2 separate regions of the Homo sapiens genome follow, and region 1 is linked to region 2. The links come from fine-mapping of genetic effects on gene expression. A gene starts in region 2. The other region holds a variant in brackets. All regions are shown on one strand. Distances are between the middles of the regions.

What was found. PIP is the estimated chance that this variant, and not a neighbour inherited with it, causes the effect.
Region 1: its variant is fine-mapped to the expression of KCNQ4 in whole blood (TOPMed, PIP above 0.99).

Annotation. Positions count from the first base shown.
Region 1 is chr1:40,814,806-40,817,700 of GRCh38, forward strand. It overlaps KCNQ4 (potassium voltage-gated channel subfamily Q member 4), which reads left to right. Exons shown (of 14, transcript NM_004700.4): 2 at 2,460-2,550. Among named protein-coding and RNA genes, the nearest start is that of KCNQ4, 32 kb to the left of the region's middle. The variant CT/C (reference allele first, on the strand shown) is at 1,242.
Region 2 is chr1:40,782,268-40,785,162 of GRCh38, forward strand. It overlaps KCNQ4 (potassium voltage-gated channel subfamily Q member 4), which reads left to right and starts at 1,520. Exons shown (of 14, transcript NM_004700.4): 1 at 1,520-2,140. The coding sequence starts at 1,827.

The DNA of each region.
Region 1 (2,895 bases), 33 kb after region 2:
ACTCTGGGTACGTGTGTAAAAACCATCTCTGTTTCAAACATTGGGATCACATTGCCGTTAAGGTTTTATAATCTGCTTTCCTTTTTTTTTAAATTGTGAAGTGGAAATTTTATAGATGTGTAATTACTGACATGGCAAGAAAAGTGTTAATGATGGCCAGGCTTGGTGGCTCACGCCTGTAATCCCAGCACTTTGGGAGGCCGAGGCAGGTGGATCACGAGGTCAGGAGATCAAGACCATCCTGGCCAACATGGTGCAACCCCGTCTCTACTAAAAATACAAAAATTAGCTGGGCACGGTGGCATGTGCCTGTAGCCCCAGCTACTCGGGAGGCTGAGGCAGCAGAATCGCTTGAACCCGGGAGGCGGAGGTTGCAGTGAGCCGAGATCACACCACTGCACTTCAGCCTGGTAACAGGATGAGACTCCATCTCAAAAAAAAAAAAAAGCAAAAGGAAAAAGAAAAGTGTTAATGAAACATTCAAGAAGAAGTCCCCAGAGTGGCCCACTGCTGCCTGAGCTTCTGAGGTCAGCTGAGAAACGGGACTGGAGGGTGTCTGTCAAGGCCGGGGTAAAGTCTTAAAAAGTCCTGGCTGTGGCCATTCCCCGAGGAGAGGGCTGCATGAGATAACCTCATGAAGGACCCTTCTGGTCCTAAACCCTGCTTCAGCTGCAGTCCCGATGCAGGTACATGTGGCCGCTGCCTTTTTTGTGATTAATTATTGAACATGAGGAGCTGGTGCTCTTCTCTTCTGTTCTCCCGTACCCCGTGTTTTTGCTGACTCAGCTCTGGTCTGGAACTGGCCGAGGAATAAGCTCTTCTCGAACTCATTCACTCATAACACTTTACCGACATCTGCCACCTACCTTCTCAAACCAGGGGTATTTGCTGGGATACACTTGCCCCCCAAAAAGGTCAGGAACCCCTGTCCAGGAGGTGTAAGTGAGCCAGGGCAGTGCCACGCCCTTTGCATGTCTTCCTTCCATAGCCCCCACTTCATAGATAACGAGATGGCTCAGAGAAGGCAGGTGACAGTCTCAAAACCACACACACAAGCAGGACTGGGATCCAAACTCAGGTCTCTCTGACCCCGAGCTGCTGTCCTTAAGGTCACCACGAAACATGAATATAAATAAAGCCACATAGAAGGTGACTTGGGCCACACATAGGGAGGCAAGCATCGGGAGTTGGCAGTTCTGAAGGGGGGATAGTGGGGTGCGGGAATCAGAGGCTCCGTAGAG[CT/C]TTGTAGCATTTGTGTTCCTGTAGGCGTGGACGATGAGCAGAGTCTCGCAGGCACAGACATGAGGTGTTCTGCGTAGCATGCACCGTGCCAGCAACGGTGCAGAGGTGGGGAGACTGGGGACATCTGGGAAGGCTGGCGGGTCAGTACACAGAGATGTATTTCCAGAGAAGCCTGTTCCCTCCGGAGTCTCCTCCAGGGTGTGTGCATGTTCAGCACACCCCCATCCTAAAGAGGGGTGCTCCTGGAGGCCACCTCATTCGCCTCTGCTGTGTCTGCAGCCTGTGACCTCTCACCTCGCTCTCCTTCACCCATCCACATACCGCAAGGCCACCAGTTTCTCTCCTCATGCCCTTGGTCCTCTTCCCATCCACTGGGAGGTTGGGAACCCTGGCTCTAATCTCAGCTCTGTCCTGGGCACACTGGGCGACAAAGGGTGAGTCCTTCTTCCTCTTCGGGCCTGTTTCCTCGTGGTGCACTGGGGGATGAGGGAAGTATTGGATGTGCTAGGGTCTAAAGTTCCTTCCATTTCTATGTCTCTGGTTCTGGGCCACTCTGTAGTTTCATGCTGTCTGCAGGGAAGTTCCTGGCCTCGATGGCCCAGCTCCACACTGCCCAATTCCCCTCCCTACATCCTCTCCCTGCTGCATCATTCCTTCTCTACCTGTCCTCCATGATCCTCTTTCCTTTTCTAGCTGTCTCGTTACTTAATTCCACGAAGGCAGGGGCAGTTGTCCCAATTCTGCAGATGAGGCCAGGCTCCTGCCACTTTGGAGTGCATAAGAAAGAAGGTCCCTCCTTCATCCGCTGACCTTCCCTGAGCCCTGGGCTGACCTCTGGGGCACTTCTCCCAAGACATCTTAAAACCAAGCTGGGGCCAAGGCCACCACTTGTGGATGGCTAGACCTGGAGGAACCCTGAGTCAGTCTATTTCCACTGCCAGACCTGCTACTCACAGATGAGTGACTACCTCTCTGAGCTGCAGCCTGCAGCAGGGGGCAATTGAGATAGTTGTGAGGTCCAGTAGCTTGGGGCTTGAGGGCTGCTGCCTTTGGTGCCCAGCACAGAGCTGTAACTCCAGGGAATTCCAATTCTGATTTCCACATAATTTTCTGAAAATAATGTTCTCCTCTCTTGGCTCTGTAACCCCCTGCCAGGGGCACCTTGGCTGTCCTGTCCCTCCAACAATCTAACCCTCTCCCTCATGTTGTAATTGCAGATTTTTGCTGGTCTTCAGCTGCCTGGTGCTGTCTGTGCTGTCCACTATCCAGGAGCACCAGGAACTTGCCAACGAGTGTCTCCTCATCTTGGTAAGTGCTGGGAGTCCGGGACTGAGGGGGGCTGTGTGAGGTAGCACCTCTGGGCTGGGAGTCCGGGACTGAGGGGGGCTGTGTGAGGTAGCACCTCTGGGCTGGGAGTCCGGGACTGAAGGGGGCTGTGTGAGGTAGCACCTCTGGGCTGGGAGTCCGGGACTGAGGGGGGCCGTGTGAGGTGGCACCTCTGGGCTGAGGGCTGAAGGTGGAAAGAGGCTTCTCATACCATGGCTCAGAGAGCAGCTTGCTGTGCTGTGTTCCCTCAGCTGTGGCTGCCCCTCTCTGGGCATCATCTCCACTTTATAGCAAGTGTTGGGGGACCTCCTGCCTCTATGCAAGGGC
Region 2 (2,895 bases):
CTAGTGGGGCCTTGGGGTCCAGAAACTGTCCCCAGCTTCCAGTAGAGGATCCGGGCATAACCTGCCCTGGGGCACCCGGCTCTGGCCCTGGGCACACCTGGACCAGGAGCAGCAGAAGAGATTCAGGTCAGACCCCAGAGGGCACCCCCAGCTAGGCAGAGGGGAAAGGATCACTATGGGGTAGGGGTGTGGGCCGGTTGCCAAGCCCAGTTTAGGGACCCCACAGATCCCTGCAGCCCACGGCCCTGCCTCCCTCCCTCCCTCACTGGCGCTCAGCAGATCAATGCTGCCTTTGCTGACAGCTGAGAATCGAGCTCGCCTTCCCGCCCCTTCCCCCGCCCCTCCCGCTCGGCTTCGTCCCTCGAGATCCTCCCGGAGGAACCGGGAAGAGTTTGCTGCGGAAGGCTCACCCTGGGGCAGGGCCTGCGGAGGGAGCGGCTGGTGTGGCCGCAGCTTTCCGTGGAGGAAGAGGGAAAGAGGATCGGGAAACCCAAGTTACCAACCCTGTGCAGGGCCCAGGAGGGCTAAAGGAGAGGGACTGCCCCCTACAGCCAGAGAGATGGAGGTCGGGGACTAAGAAAAACTTTCCAGCTGGAGAGGGAATGCCCTGGGACAAAGTATCCCCTTTTCTGGCTGGGATTCTGTGGGCCTTGGGTAGGGGGTGTGTGTCCCCTCTAAGGCTGGCTTAGAGCTCATCTCCCAACACTCCATCTGCCCAAACCCAGTTCCCTGACCTGGGAGTGGGGCAGGGGAGCAGGCCCCTCCATCGGGGAGGATCCTCTTCTGGGCAGGGTGGCTCTTCCCCCATCACGATGAAGGGAAGCTCAGAGGTGGCAGTTGGTGGGAGAAAGACACACCCAGGCCCACTGTGTTCCACACACCCTGATGCTGCCTAGCAGCCCGTGGGCTCCAGGCCTTTCAGGTAAGAGCAGGACAACCGCCGCTGCCCACCCAGCCACACACAGCACTGGGCACACTTTAAGCACCCGCACCAGGCACACAGTGCTCGACCCCAACGGACACACCTCATCCCCTTCGGACTCCACCTCCACTTTCGCAGCCACCCACACCCGACCCATAACTCACACCTCACTGACTCCATCCCCGCACCTGGTAGACCCACAGCCACCCACCCTGCACACACAAGTAGACGCCGTTCCACCGGTCTACACCTAAACTCCACGGGACACTGCGTCCCTTCCCCTGCCGCCCGCGGCCACAACTCCACATTCCACTTTCCACAAGCACACACGAGGCGTCCCACCCCGGGCTGGCCTTCGGGGCCACACTGCCCCACGCAGCGGTGGACACCACTTGCACGCGTCCGGCTTCCCGGCCCCGCGCGCTGCCCCCGCCACGCGGTTCGGCCCAGGCACCAACTCGGCCGCCCGTGCGCCCTGCCCCGCCGCCTGCTCCGCGCGTTCCCTCCCTCCGCCTCGCCTCGCTTGCTCGCTCGCTCCCTCCCGATTTGGGAAGGCGGCCGCGGGGCGGGCGGGGGAGGGGCGGGGCGGGGGAGGGTGACATGTGAGCGGCGCGCGCCGGTGGCAGGTGGAAAGGCGAGCGGCATGGAGCGCGTAATAAGAGAGTTGGAGTCGGAAAGAGCAGCCCCAGTCGCCGGGGAAGCGGGAGGTCAGTGCGGGCTCCGGCGGCCCCCAGGCTCCGAGCGCCCGCCCGCGGCCCCGGCCCGGCCCCTAGCCCCCGCCGCCCGCGCCCGCCCCGGGTCGCCCCTCTGGCCCCGGGTCCGAGCCATGCGTCTCTGAGCGCCCCGAGCGCGCCCCCGCCCCGGACCGTGCCCGGGCCCCGGCGCCCCCAGCCCGGCGCCGCCCATGGCCGAGGCCCCCCCGCGCCGCCTCGGCCTGGGTCCCCCGCCCGGGGACGCCCCCCGCGCGGAGCTAGTGGCGCTCACGGCCGTGCAGAGCGAACAGGGCGAGGCGGGCGGGGGCGGCTCCCCGCGCCGCCTCGGCCTCCTGGGCAGCCCCCTGCCGCCGGGCGCGCCCCTCCCTGGGCCGGGCTCCGGCTCGGGCTCCGCCTGCGGCCAGCGCTCCTCGGCCGCGCACAAGCGCTACCGCCGCCTGCAGAACTGGGTCTACAACGTGCTGGAGCGGCCCCGCGGCTGGGCCTTCGTCTACCACGTCTTCATGTGAGTTTGCGACCCCGCGCCCTTCCGCGTTTCCCCGCGCAAGCCTGGCCTCCCGGGGCACGGCCGCCCCGCCCTGGCTCCGCCTTCTACCCCCCTGCCTCAGGGCCGACCCTCATCTCTCTCCCCCCAGGCCTAAGCCCGGTTTCTGATCCCCTCGCTGAGCCCGACCCTAAGCCCTGATCTCCCAGGCCTGACCCCTGCTTGACCTCGCTTCTGACCTCCCCGCACCGCAACTGCTTATTTCCATCCTGACCGCCAATCTCTGCTCCTCTGTCCCAGGTACTCCCGACCGCCAGCTGCCTCCCCCAAGTCCGCTTGGCGAAGTCTGGGGCCCCTGGAGTGGGCGCCCTTTTCCTCTTCCCCACCCCTGCCTCCCTGTGTCCCAGACACAAAGAGGAACCCTTGGCTCCCACACGCTTCTGTCACCTGCTCCCCAGCTCTGAGCTATGAAGGGCTCCCCTCAGGGGTGCTCCTCTCCAGGGCGGCCCTCATTCCTACCCCTGCCCAGCTGACTGTGGGTGTGTGGGGGTCCCTGTGGGCCCCCTGGGCCCTGACACTCGCATATGCTGTGTCCGACTTGATCTGTGTCTTCGCTCAGTCTTCCCCTCCACCCTCAACTTCCCAGTGGCAACGGCGGCCGCCCTGCCTGCCCTGCCCTACCCTGCCGGCTTGGCCCAGCTCGCCTGCCTTGTTGGCTGGCAGCACCAGGCCTGGCTCTAGGCACCAGGGGAAAAAGAAAGAGGAGAGGGGTAGGT